2 linked regions of the Homo sapiens genome follow. The protein of the gene in region 2 interacts with the protein of the main gene of each other region in a biochemical or structural test. Each region holds a gene or a part of one and is shown on either strand. Other genes may lie near its edges. The genes, in order: AP3B1 and KIF3A.

Evidence for each region.
Region 1: the proteins of KIF3A (region 2) and AP3B1 form a complex in vitro, tested with the Homo sapiens proteins (one study listed by IntAct).

Annotation. Positions count from the first base shown.
Region 1 is NC_000005.10:78,284,481-78,291,837, forward strand, and holds part of AP3B1 (AP-3 complex subunit beta-1), read right to left. Parts: intron 1-7,357. UniProt on the Homo sapiens protein: Subunit of non-clathrin- and clathrin-associated adaptor protein complex 3 (AP-3) that plays a role in protein sorting in the late-Golgi/trans-Golgi network (TGN) and/or endosomes.
Region 2 is NC_000005.10:132,713,438-132,720,794, forward strand, and holds part of KIF3A (kinesin-like protein KIF3A), read right to left. Parts: intron 7,278-7,357; coding exon 7,172-7,277; intron 3,548-7,171; coding exon 3,408-3,547; intron 3,006-3,407; coding exon 2,808-3,005; intron 2,495-2,807; coding exon 2,320-2,494; intron 1-2,319. UniProt on the Homo sapiens protein: Microtubule-based anterograde translocator for membranous organelles. Plus end-directed microtubule sliding activity in vitro. Plays a role in primary cilia formation. Plays a role in centriole cohesion and subdistal appendage organization and function.

The sequences.
Region 1 (7,357 bases), about 54 Mb from region 2:
CTAATAGATAGTAATTTAACTACAATTTGTCCTAAAAGGACTATCATTTTAAGAAATGAGCAGGCTCCATGCATTGGTAAATGAAACAAGCAAATTATAATGTCATATTATAAAAGCATATAGCTTTGCTCTAAAAACACATGATATACACATACATACATATAAATATATATGCAAAAGAAAAAAGGCTAAAAGATATATACTACATTAACCGATTTCTTCTGGATATTGAAATTAGGGTTGTTATTTTTCAGCTAACCTGTATCTGTAAGTTTTCTAGAAGAAAAAGGGGATATCAGCAATTCTCCAGCAATTTTCCTTCTCTCTAATGCATCATCTATTTTCTCTCCTCTACATCAGTTGGTTCCATCAGCAAACAAGATAATACAGTTTCTCCTACCTTAAGGAAAAATTCCTTGACATAACATTCCTCTCCAAGTGCTGCTCCATTTCTCTGCTCTTCTATACTTAAAAATATACTAATGGCCAGGCGCGGTGGCCCACGCCTGTAAATCCCAGCATTTTGGGAGGCCGAGGTGGGCAGATCATGAGGTCAGGAGATGGAGACCATCCCGGCTAACACGGTGAAACCCCGTCTCTACTAAAAATACAAAAAAAATTAGCTGGGCGTGGTGGAGGGCGCCTGTAGTCCCAGCTACTCGGGAGGCTGAGGCAGGAGAATGGCGTGAACCCGGGAGGCGGAGCTTGCAGTGAGTCGAGATCACGCCACTGCACTCCAGCCTGGGCGACAGAGCAAGACTCTGTCTCAAAAAAAAAAAAAAATACTAACCACAATTCTTCTTCTTCCTTCTCTCTTGAGCCCACTCATGAGGCTTTCAGCCCCACCAGTGCACCTAAACTGCTTGTCACGGTCACCAAAGTCCACCCAGTGACAAATCCAAAACTCCCTTCTCAGTAATCATCTTACTTGACCTATTTGTATTATTTGACACAATTACTCCAGGAATGTCCCAGGACTGACTGACTCTGACCTTTTTCTACACTCACTTCCTCAGTGTCTCATCCAATCCCATGATACCTGATGACTCCCAAATTTATACTTCTAGCCTGACTCCTCCTCTAAGCTCCACACTCTGATATCCAACTGCCTATTTAGTATCTCCACATGGATGCCTAATCGCATCTCAAACTTAACATGCACAAGCTCTTGGTCCCTTTCCCCCTTTAAAAAAAAATTCCTCTTTGCACAATATTCTTCATTTTAGTTGACAGCTATTCCAAACTTCGAGCTGTGTAGGCAAAAAACTTTGTATCCACCCTTGATATCTTTTCTCCCACACACATATCACATCCAAACTATCAGCAAATCTCATTGGCTCTACCTTTCAAATATATCCATAACTCACCCACTTCTCTCCACTACCACCAATCGGATCACCTTCTCTTGCCTGAATTACTGTAATAGTCTCCTTGCTGGTCCTTGCCTCAAATCTGCAGTCCACTCCTAGTTCAAGAGGCAAAATGTCCCTTTAAAGGGTAAACAATCATTTCACCCCTCTGCTCAAAACTCTCCAAATGGCATCCCTTCTCACTCAGAGTAAAATCAAAGACCTTAACAATGATTTTACAAGGCCCTACACAATCAGGTCTCCGCCTTCCACTCTGCCCCTTATCTCTCTGCCCTCATATTTTACTAATTAATTTCCCCCACATCCTTCTTGACCACATTCTCAACCTAGGCTTTAAAAACTTGCAGAAAACCCATTCCAAGAATAAAGTTGGGTGATGCCTAGCTCTGCCAACCTATGATTTTGGAACCACCCTACTATGGTTTCAATGTGTCCTCTCCAAAATTCAGATGTTCAAACTTAATGGCCAATATGATAGCATTAAGAGGTGGGGCCTTTAAGATTTAGTCATGAGGGCTCCTCCCTTCATGAATGAGATTAAGGCCCTTGCAAAAGAGGCTTCACAGTCTTCCATTCTCTTGCCCTTCCACCTTCTGCCCAGTAAGGACACAGCATTACTCCCCTCCAGAGGATGCGGCAACAACAGACCATCTTAGAAGCAAAGAGCAGCCCTCACCAGGAAACTAAACCTGCCTGTGACTCAATCTTGGACTTCCTGGCCTCCAAAAATGTGAGAAATAAAATTATATTCTTTAGAAATTACCCAGTCTCAGGTTTTTTGTTATAGCAGCATAAAACAAACTGAGACAGGGCCTTATTCATTCTTCTCTCATTTGTCCAGCTACCATGCCAACTCACTCAGCTGAATTAAAGACAGTGGACTTCTAATTAGGCTGGTTCCTATCAGCAATATAAATAATCAGTCCATCAATAAACAGATATTGGCTATAAACTGTTCACTTTTGTAGATCTATTAAGTCTTTCCAGCTGATAGGCTAAATAAGCCTTCTCTAAATACACGAACCAACGTTATTCATAATAATATGAAATAGAGGAAAATCATTTCCTTCTTGATTATTCTACTTTAAGCTCTTCATTTTAAATTTTGAATTTGGACTGCAGGCAATTTGTTTTTGTCAGTAGTTCATTTATATACACAAGTGAAATACTGTCAAATTATTTCACTGTAATACATTTGTCATTCTATGAGCATTTATAACTTTTCATGCAGCAAAAAAGAACATTTCAACCAACCATCTGTCTGCCTTTTTCATGTGCTTTAATCATTCAGCTCTGGTAATGTTGCTCCAAATACTAAATTTTTTTTAAATAACATAAAATCTCACATCTTATGATTTAATGGTAAGGCTTGAAATTTAATTTTCAGATTTTTCTCCTCAAATTTTACCAGATCAGTGATTTTAAAAATAACATATCCTACTGTCAAGAAAGAATATTTTCTTGAATATTTATTAAGACAAAATGTAGAAGTCAGAACCAACTCTCCTTCAAGGAGATATGCAAGCAAAGCAAAATAAGATAAAAGGTTTTATAATCTGTTGGAAAGTAAGACTCTGTTTACAGGCAGTATTTCATCAAATTTCTATTCAATGTAGTAAAATCTTATTTAATTTGAAATATATTTCAAGAATTAAATCATAAATGGAACCCTACTGCACCACTGAAATGACAATCCTTAATTTGAATAGTTGGCCCTTTGTAAAACTTACGATCTTATTTTTATGAAGACAAAAACAACTAGTTCAGCTGCTAGGAATGCACTGCAGATGCTAGTATACAGTTTCTTCTTTTATTTTTAGTCACCTTGGAACAAATGCTGAAATTTAGTGAAAAATCAATAAAATACTAAAATTTCCTAATAACTTAATGTACCCCTTGTAAAAAAAAAAAAAAAAAAGTAGGATCCAGTTTACATATGTAGCAAGCAAATATGTTAACAGCTCTAGTACCAGATCTAATGACCATAAATTTCAATTAGCTAAACATAATAAACAAGACAGATCAGTTATCAAACCTGGAATTATTAGAACACAAGAGATTTAAATCTTCATAACTAAAGATGATCAGATGTATAACAGTATGCTGACAAAATCATGACTGAAGCATATTTTCATAGCAGCAACCCTGAACTCCTGAGCACAAGAGAAAGGAATTCACAATGAGGAAGGAGCCCGTGCCTCTTCATGTCATGCTTATGACTCAGGGCACCAACACTTCAACGTCTCAAACTAAAATGTCCTTAACATTTCAAAATTCCAGCATTTCCATTTTCTTCAGTAAATCACTGTTTACACAAACAAAGGCTTATAACAAATAATTTTCAATAGGTATGCCACACTGAAAAGTTGAATTACACAATTTAACACTAATTGTATACTTGAATTACTGACGGTTAGTTCACATTAGCCTAATCTCTCCAAATAAAGTCTGAGTTTCTTAAAAACAAGATAAAGACACTATAATTGTTATGCATTTTTATGGTGAAAACACAGAGGAATGAACCATACATATGGAATAATCCAAGACTGGGAGGTAAAGATGCCTTTGAAGACTGGGATAAAGACTAAAAATCCTGATTGTAAAGTTCATTCCATACCTACATGACAATTCCGAGTCAGTTAATCCTAACCACAGCAAAGACCCAAGTGAACTACACAAAATTAGCTTCAGGGTGATGCTGTACTACAATACAATGGAGATACCAGATGAGGGTTTCCTTCTGTATAGGGTCCACGGAATCAGTCATGCTTCATTTTTTAACAACATTGGCTAATGAGAGAGCAAATGTTAATGGAATCTAAATCACTGAATTGAGTAAAAGGATCTGAAAATATTTTATTAAGCAAAATTATGAGCCAAACACTTTGCTAGGCACCTTCACACAAATCACAGTCTTTAATATGAGCAGAATGTGTGAACGATTTATCTATATAAATATTTAAGAAATATTCACTGAGCAACTACATAAACTGAAAATACACAATGAGATAAAGTTTAAATGAGAAATACTAGGATAAGCAAAAAGAAAGTAGAGCAAGCTCTAAACAACTAGACCATGAAAAAATGTTAAATGAAAAAAAAAAACACCCAAAAATATGGTACAGACACTAGATAAAATTAAGTATTAATAAAAAATGGACTTAAACACAAACAAGTTTAGAACCCATAGTGAGACACAATGACTCTTTGAGGTAGGTCAAATATAATGCGTTACTATTAATAAAATTGTATTTTTAAGAAAGTATATTCAATAACATCCCTCTAAGTAAATGAATCTCACTCAGCTGCATTTCTATATGCCTTTCAGAAAGATACAAAAAGTAGTGGAGATAAAGTCAGAGTTGCTATAATTGCGTACAAACCACAGACACATGTAATCTTCCTACTGGACTCTCCTGAGAATCACTGATATTAAAGGTTAAGAATGAATGTAATAGAATTTTCATGTTTGATATTGTAAAGTTGACAATGAATAAGATTTAAGTTAAAAAATAAGTCAGGCTTTATTGATGCAATCCAAATACACTGGGTTGTATTACTGACTACAGGAAAGCATGCAGTACTTTGCTTGGATCTAAATTAGCTCTTTGAATCTAAACAAATGAAAAGCCCACCCCGATTTAAACAGAGTAAAAATGCTACCTTTCAACGTGTGCAGGAGGTACTGCATTGCTAAGTTACTGGCTGCTAAAGTCACCTTTCAGTTGTTAAACCCAAGGGCCTCTTTTCAGCCTTCATTCTATTTGCCCTTACTCTACAACTCCTGACATAGCTGAACATTTCCTTCTTTTAATTTTCCTGTTAGCATCTTCTTTTTTAAACCTTCCTGTGTTTTCCCACCCTTCTGAGCTCAGTCTCTTTTTCTAGTTCTTCCATTCATACTTTATATCCTGTTGTCCCCTGGGTTTTGTCCAAACTGCCTTCTCGTCTAACAAGAAAAGTCTTCCCTGGGTGATTTCATCCATTCCCATACTTTACTACCTACTATTCATAATTGTGATGTCTAAATATCCATCTCATTTGAACATGCTTTTTCTTTTGCAAATCTTCTGGTTTCTACATACTCTGCCTAAAGAATCCATCTTTCCTCCCCCTGGCAAAAACCTCAGGCTTTAAGATCTAAAGTGTCACTACCTCAGTGAAGTCTTCACCAACTTTCCCAAATAGCGTTAGTTAATATCCTAGTTTAGAAATCACTTTGAAGTACACCATCTCATGAGATCCTCACAAAAGAGGCAAGTATTATCACATCCCGTCTAGAAATGAGGAAACTGAGGTTTGAAGAGATCAGCAACTTGAACAAGGAAGCACTACTACAAATGGAAAACATCAACTTAAATCCAGGTCTTCTAACTCTGGGCCCAGTGTTTTTTGTTTTTTCTTCCCATTTTCATTTATAGAGACAAGGTCTCACTATGTTGCCCAGGCTGGTCTGGAACTCCTGGGTTCAAGCAATCCTCCTGCCTGGGCCTCCCAAAATGCTAAGATTACAGGCAGGGGCCACCATTCCCAGCCTCAGTCTTCCTTCTAATACACCAAGATGCTCTCAAAGGAAAAGAGATTTACAAATTTAGTAGCTTTACTATTGTAATTAAGAAAAATTAATTAGTCTTGTCTGTTTCTAGAAATTAATTCCTAATTAAATGTTTAATCCAGTAACAGAATTATTAAAATTATTTTTAATTATAGGCACACATACCCAAATTGGTTAAAAGAAGTTTTTTTTTAAATGAAGAAAAACAACTTAGAAAAAAACAGAAAATAAAAGTTGAGAATATTTTAAAAAGAAGGAAGGGGCCAAGCACAGTGGTACACGCCTCCAATTCCAGCACCTTGGGAGGATGAGGCAGGCGGATTGCTTGAGCCTAGGAGTTCAAGACTAGCCTGGGCAACATGGCAAGACCCCATCTCTACAATAAATACAAAAATTAGCTGGGCATGGTAGCATGCACCTGTAGTCCCAGCTACTCGGAAGCCTGAGGTGGGAAGGATCACTTGAGCCCAGATGGTTGAGGCTGCAGTGAGCCATGATCACACCACTGCACTCCAGCCTAGGCAACAGAGTAAGACATGTCTCAAAAAATAAAAAATAAGAGTACAAAAATAAGTTCTTTACATTTTAAATAAAGAAATTGAAAATCTTGAAGCCAATAATCTAATACACAGGCCTTTTTAGCCAATAAATTAGGTATAGGATCTACTTTCATAAAGCCATCTAATTCTGCTTCTGTTTGAAGAGAGGAGAAGATAAATAATATTGATAAATAAGATTAAATTCAGAAAACAAAAATTGCCGATAATACTATGACTAGGAAGTACCTAGGCATCATTGAGATGGTTAGTGAAGGATCAGTGAACACAGAGCTCTAGGCCAAGAAGCCAAAGAGCAGAACAGCAGAGGGAGTTGCAGCTGAAACATTACCATTTTGCAGCCATTGTGGAAAAGACAGGTTCAGGAGATTGATCAATGGTTGTTAAATGTAGAAGTGGTCCATTTAAAAAAGAGCAAGACATCTGCATGGTCTCAGTGTCTCCCCACAGATAATTTGAAAAAAAAAAAAAAAAAAACAGAAATGACACCACAGAGAAACTGGACAACCCTGTGACTAGGAAAATTAACATCATGAAGATGGACAACCTATGCCTCCAAATGTAATAGTTCAAGAAGCATGCATCACCTATGGTAGTATCCCAGCCAAGGATACATAACCTGAATCTAAACATGAGGAAACACCAGCAAACCCAAAAACTGATTAACATAAAATAAAATAATAGGCTTTGCAATCCTTAGATATGTCAAATTCATGAAAGACAAAAAAGGCTAAGGAACTATCCCAGATTAAAGAAGATTAAAGAGACATGGCAACTAAATTAAATATATTATCTTGGACTGGAAACTGTACTTGAGGAAAAAAATGCTTGGGAAAAAAAACACTTTATTGGAACAAAGGATAAAATTAGATTAA
Region 2 (7,357 bases):
ATATAGCCTACAATAATTTTTAAGTTTAAAAATTATTATTTTAATGCTATTGCCTACTTTTTTATTGTTGATATGATCAACTCCATTAACTAGATTATAAAAAGAAATGTCATAAGAGCAAAAATGAACTGAAATGTATTAACAACAGTATTATCATAGAATCCAGCAATTCCATTGCTGGGTACATACCCCAAAAATGGTAAAACAAGAATTCAAACAGGTATTAGTATACCCACGTTCATAGCAGCATTATTCACAATAGCCAAAAGGTGGAAAGAACCAACTGTCCATTGGTGGATGAATGGATAACAAAATGTAGTATATACACAATGGAATGTTATTCAGAATTAAAAAGAAGTCCTGATACATTCTACAACACGGATGACCCTTGAAGGCATTATACTAAATGAAATAAGCCAGTCACAAAAAGACAAATGCTGTATTTCACTTTCTTTTTTTTTTTTTTTTTTTTTTTTGAGATGGGAGTCTCACTCTGCCACCCAGGCTGGAGTGCAGTGGCATAATCTCGGCTCATTGCCACCTCCACCTTCCAGGTTCAAGTGATCCTCCTGCCTCAGCCTCCCAAGTAGCTGGGATTACAGGCGAGAGCCACCATGCCCAGCTAATTTTTGTATTTTCAGTAAAGATGGGGTTTCACCGTGTTGGCCAGGCTGGTCTCGAACTCCTGACCTCAACTGATCCACCCGCCTCGGCCTCACAAAGTGCTGGGATTACAAGCGTGAGCCACTGCGCCCCACCAATTCCGCTTTCGTAAGATACCCAGAGCAGTCAAATTCATAGACAAAGCAGAATGGTTGTTGGCCAGGAACTAGGGGAAGGGAGGAATGGGTACATACTGTTTTTAATGAGTACAAAGTTTCAATTTTGCAAGAAGAAAACTGAAGACGGATAACTGCAGAACAATGTGAATGTAATGCCACAGAAATGTAGACTTAAATGTGATTAAAATGGTAAACTTTATGTTATGCAAGTTTAACCACAATTTTTTAAAAAGGAATAAAATTCAGGCACTTGCTACAATATGGATGAACCTTCAACGTTCTGTTAAGTGAAATAAGCCAGTCACAAGTAGATACTCCATGATTTTACTTATATGAGGTACCTAGAATAGTCAAATTCATAGAGACCGAAAGTAGAATAGTGGTTACCAGAGACTGGGGGAGAAAAGAATAGGAAGTTACTACTTAAATGGGCACAGCATTTCTGTTTGGGATGATGAAAAATTTCTAGAAATGAATAGTGGTGACAGTTGCACAACAATGCGAATATACTTGATGCCACTAACTGTACACTTAACTAACAATGGTTACAATGATAAATTTTATGTCATGTATATTTTACCACAACAAAAAAATGTAAAACATAAAGTCAGCAAAATAAAAGTATGCACTCACCGTTAACATCGCTAAGAAATTAAAAATCTTTAAAACATACTGGCTATAAATACCACCTAGTGGTCACATTTAAAACACCAAATTTCATTATCTAACAGTTCTCTTACTGCTTTTCCTCAATAACTACTTGTTTACTAAATAAGTACCCTCTCTAAACATTTGTGATGCTGGCGTCTCTGAATTTCACCTCTGATCTAGTCAGTCTTCTCACAGACTACAAAGGTGCTTTGAAACCAAAGCCCTGTTTACGTGGTTCGCGAAGGAGCTCTGTACCAATCAGAAAGGATCTGTTTCTCGCATTAAGGTGCAAGGACTCACTCAGCACTTAATGACTGGGAAGCGTCTCACTCTCATAAATAAGATCTTCAAATTTTCCAACTTTCTAGCATGATATTGTTAGAAAAGAATTTCCAAAATACAATCTCATGTTCAAATTTAGGTATGAAAGGATATTTTAAAGGTCATGCAATGCATTTTTCCTTATAGCAAACTTGGTTTACTCATGACTGTCTAATATCTTGCTTTACTTCAAACAATAGTTAGTTGATATTGATTGCAATGCCAGAATTCTGGTCATTTTCACCTAAATACATACATTGCAGAATTTGCTCTTATACAGAGACAAATAAACATTCATTCCTTAAAAAGTGGTCATATGAAATCTACAAAACATCATGCAAATGTTTTTAAAAAACCACATACACAAATATTATGTAATTTTACTTAAGCTTAATATGAAAATGCGAAAGTATGTAAGTACCAAGTCACTTTCTAGAAATATTCATTTAACTACCAATGTTAGAGGCTCAAAAAAGGTTTAATAGAGGGCTTTTGTTAGAACAGTTAGTGGTTCAACAATGTATTTTTAGCCAACATAAAGATTAATATTTTGAGGAAAAGCTACCTTCTTCAAGCTTCTTTTTCAGTTCTTCTATTTCTTTCTGGAACTGACGCAGCAAAGCATCCTTTGGATCTTCATTAATTCTAGCTTTATTTTTAATATTCTTAGCACGATTGGCATACCGTAATGTACTGATAGTTTCATCATAATTGTAATCTGCTGGCCCAATATTTGCACACTATTGAATTAGAAATATGAAACAAATCATTTTACACTTGACAGAGTTAAAATTAATACTACCATTACAAATACATCAAAAACATTTAAAGCACATATGCACCCTTGGCCTTCTCGAAAATGAGAGTGTCAACCACATGAGTTTCCAAAGGACACTATTATGGGCTAATACACGAGTGTACCACAAAAAGGACAACCACAAGTCAAAAAAAGTAAAATAATCAAGTTTAAAAAATGTGATACGTATCAATTATTGGCATAAATTACAATCTTAAATTTGCCTGATGTTAACTATATCACCAATTAAGTCTTACCATCATGGTTTTTGAATTTCCTCCTAAGGAATCCTGAAGAAGACGAGTCAGTTTAGAGTTACGATAAGGCACATGAGTGCTTTTTCCATCAACCAAGGCAGAAATTACATTACCAAGGGTGGAAAGTGAAAGATTGATTTTTGTAGCTTCCTTTAGGCGCTGTCCAGTAGCTCCAGTTTTTGCCTGTCTTTCTGAACCCTAGCAATAAACAGAGATGAAAGTAAAGCTAAAATTTTTTTAAAAATAGAATATTCTTCCCAAGGTTTTATTAAAAAGTAATGTAACAGTAAAAAACCTGATATGATGCCTGAATTCACTTCAAAATAATATAGGAAAGGAAGAAGTGGGGGAGAGTACATGAAACAAGATTAGCCATGAGCTGATTGTTGGGAGTTGGGTGATCAGTGTATGGGGGATCACTATACTATTCTATCTACTTTCATATACATTTGAAATGTTCCATAATAAATAATAAACATACACAAGTAACACCTTAAAAATCATATGTAAATCATACCTTTTCACTTTAATTTTCATTCATTTATAAAATAAATGGATCACAAGAAAGAGTTATTCCTTAAGCAGTGTCCTGTTACTTACAGCAAGATCTACAAGATGGAGCTTCCCCATCCTGACATGCATGTTACCATCAATGCCTTTTTCACTGCATTCTATAGTAATTGTAAAGATGGCATGGGAACGGGAACTATGTTCGTTCATATTAGTTGCACCAACAGAACCTTTAATAAATAAACGAAATCCTTTAAAAGTGTAACAGAGAGTGCCTTTAAAAATAATTAAACATCCTGAACAGTTTAAAACACTTAATTTTATCACAATCAAAAGCCAGAGAGCATGGCTAAACCATAAAGGCATGGGTGTGTACTTAGCCACTACATGAAATTTCTCTTATACTTTGTTGATAACAAATTTGTAAGGTTTCTCATATTAAAGACATAACTTTAGCAAAAAATAATTTCAATCCCTAGTAATACTGCCTAAAAAATAACTAATTTACACCAAAAAACCACATTAATTGGAAAAATTATTGCTGATTTAGCTATCTAAAGAGAAGTATGCATGCTGGTGTACTGCAGGAAGTAAAAAACAATAATAATAAAGAGAATTTTAGCTACTTGGGAGGCTGAGGCACAAGAATCACTTGAATCCGAGAGGTGGAGGTTGCAGTGAGCTGAGATTGCGCCACTGCACTCCAGCTTGAACATATAAACCACAGGAATACTTGCACACATATGTTAGACAATACAACAATATTCAGTGCAGCATTAAAAAAAATAAGGTAGATCTAAAAACGTGGAAAAATGTCCATAACATATAAATTAAAAATAAAAGCAAGTTAGAAAGAAATACATAACATAATCCTACTTCTGTAAAAAAAAAAAATCCATTCAAAATATGCAAAGTATTTGCATATGTGTAAATATATGAATATATTGTGTAAACAAAAAACATTTTTTTACAATAGACCTGTATTAGTTTTTTTCTTAAATTCCAAAGTATTTTAAAGTTAATTTTACTCAATGCCAAAATTATCTTCCTACTATACATTCATGCAGCATTTTTCTGTGCAAGCTTTGATTTTATAATTGAAACATTAAAAGGGTAATCTTTAATGAAGTGACCAAAAGCTCCAATTAACTACCTGAGAATTAAATTAATTTCATTCTATGAATGAAATCTTGTGTTAAAATTTTTAATTAAATAACCAATAATTAACATATTTCTGGTATTTGTTTTTTTAATAAAAGCATACAGAAAGCATAAAGTGAAAGCTCCTGACATTCCTTTTCCCCAATTTTATTTCTCCTTCTCTAAAGGTAACCACTACAATCTGTCCTTTCATTCTGTATTTTATATACATACGTGTAGACACAAACACACACACACTGCCCAAATAAATATATGGTTTAACAATTTTTCACATATAAATAAATGGGGTAAGGCAGTACATACATACTGTTCTACAATTTGCTTTTATCCCCCCACTGACAAACATACTTTGAAAATCTTCCAGCTCTGTGTAGGCACATTTACCTGACTGGGTTTTTTTGTTGTTTTGTTTGAGACAGGGTCTCCCTCTGTCACCCAGGCTGGAGGGCAGTGGCACAATCTCGGCTCACTGCAACCTCCACCTCCCAGGTTCAAGTGATCCTCCGGCCTCAACCTCCTGAGTAGCTGAGATCACAGGTGCGCACCACCACGCCCAGCTAATTTTTGTATTTTTAGCAGAGACGAGGTTTCACCAGGTTGGCCAGGCTGGTCTCAAACTCCTGGCCTCAAGTGATCCATCCGCCTCAGCCACCCAGAGTGCTGGGATTATATGCATGAGCCACCACACTCAGCTTGTTGTTTTTTTTGTTGTTGTTTTGTTTTGTTTTTGAGACAGAGTCTTCCTCTATTGCCCAGGCTGGAGTTCAGTGGTGCTATCTTGGCTCACTGCAACCTCTGCCTCCCAGGTTCAAGCAATTCTGCTGCCTCAGCATCCCAAGTAGCTGGGATTATAGGCGTAAGCCACCACGTCTGGCTGATTTTTTTGTATTTTTAGTTGAGATGGGGTTTCGCCATGTTGCACAGGCTGGTCTCTAACTCCTGAGTTCAGGAAATCTGCCCACCTTGGCCTCCCAGAGTGTTGGGATTACAGGCATGAGCCACCACACCCAGCCTAACTCATTGTTTTTAACAGCTTTATTACAGTCTATGGTATTTTTGTGTCATCATTTACATAATCAGGGTTTTATTGAAGGTTATTTAGATTGTTACATCTAAAAATATTTTCCAGAATGTCTAAAATTAGAAACACAGAGTCAAAAGGAATGTATTTTAAAATGTCAACAGATACTGTTAACAATGCCCTTCAAATAGGCTGCACCAATTTATATTCCATCCTCAGTGCCCATTTCTTCAAAGTCTCACCAACCTACATATCCTTCATCTAATCTGATGGGTGAAACATCTCTCTCTATCTTGTTTTAGCATTTTCCTGATTAGTTGTGAAGTTAAACAGCCTTTCACATACTTATTGCTGTGCTTAGTTCTTCTACGAATAACATACATATTTTTTGCTAATTTTTCTATTAAGATTTGGTCTTTTTCTATTAATTGGTTCATAAGAATGTAATTGATTTTTGAAGTTTTGTTGTTTGATTTCCTTGGGTTTGATATATCTATCGTCAAGTCACAGAAACTTATAAAAATTTTTCATTTCCTATTTCTCATCTTTTACCTCTAATCCCTCTTTTTTTCTTTTTTTTTTGGTTGCTGTGTTGCCCAAGTTGGAGTGCAGTGGCGCGATCTCGGCTCACTGCAACTTCTGCCTTCCTGGTTAAAACGATTCTCCTGCCACAGCCTCCCGAGTAACTGGGATTACAGGCACCCACCACCACTCCCAGCTAATTTTTGTATTTTTAGTAGAGACGGGGTTTCACCATGTTGGCCAGGCTGGTCTCAAACAAGTGATCCACCCACCTCAGCCTCCCAAAGTGCTGGGATTACAGGTGTGAGCCACCGCGACCAGACTTTTCACCTCTAATTTCTAATTGCTATTAGCTGCATCACCAGTACTAGGTTTGAGGCATCTGTATAATATCGCTGAAGCTTCCTACTCTTTAGACTAAAAATGTGACACAATTACTAAAAAGAATACAATTTTTTAATTTAAATTTTGTTTTGCTTTTCTTGTCAACAAAAGGGAAGCATTACAGTGCCTAGTTAATGCAGACTACTGGCCTAGGTTTTTTGGGTTTCTTCCAGGTGGGTTTCTTTAGGACAGGGGCTCCCTATTGTCCAGGCTGGTCTCAAACTCCTGGCCTCAAATGATCCTCCCAGTTCAGCCTCCCGAGTTGCTGGGATTACAGGCATGAGCCACTGTGCGTGGCTATGGCTTAGGTGTGATCACTCACTCTACCACTTAGTAGTTATAGTACTTAGACAAGTTACTTAAACTAAGTCTCACTTTCTTCATTCATAAAGTAAGAATTTAATGTCTTCATAGTCTCCTGTGAGGACTAAGAGAGCATCTTTATGAAGCACTTAGCACAAGCACTCTCCACTAAGAGCTCAATAAACATTACCAATTTTACTATTATAGCTACCAAGAGACAGCCGTATGAGAGTTGCATAGATTGGCGCTACTAAAAAGAAACAAAATTTTGCTCGGCATGGAAAATGATTTGTGGTATCTTTCATTCATCTATGCTCTCTACATGGTAAATAATCAAAGTGGAATGGTTTTCAAGAAACCTAAAAAATCCAGTCTCTACAGGGTAAAGTGCCATACCAAATTTGCTTCTAAACCAGCCTACTCAACACACAGATGCTTAATCACAATTACACACTATACTTACGATTTTTGTGGCCTAGCGTCATAATTCTATCCATATCATCAGCATTATTTACCACATAAGCTGATAAATCTTTGATATAAACTCCCACATCAGGTCTTTCTTTAACCTAAAAAAAAATTAAGACTTTATACTATATCAATAACTCTTCCACAATTATTTATTGAGTATCTCCTATGTGTTGGACAC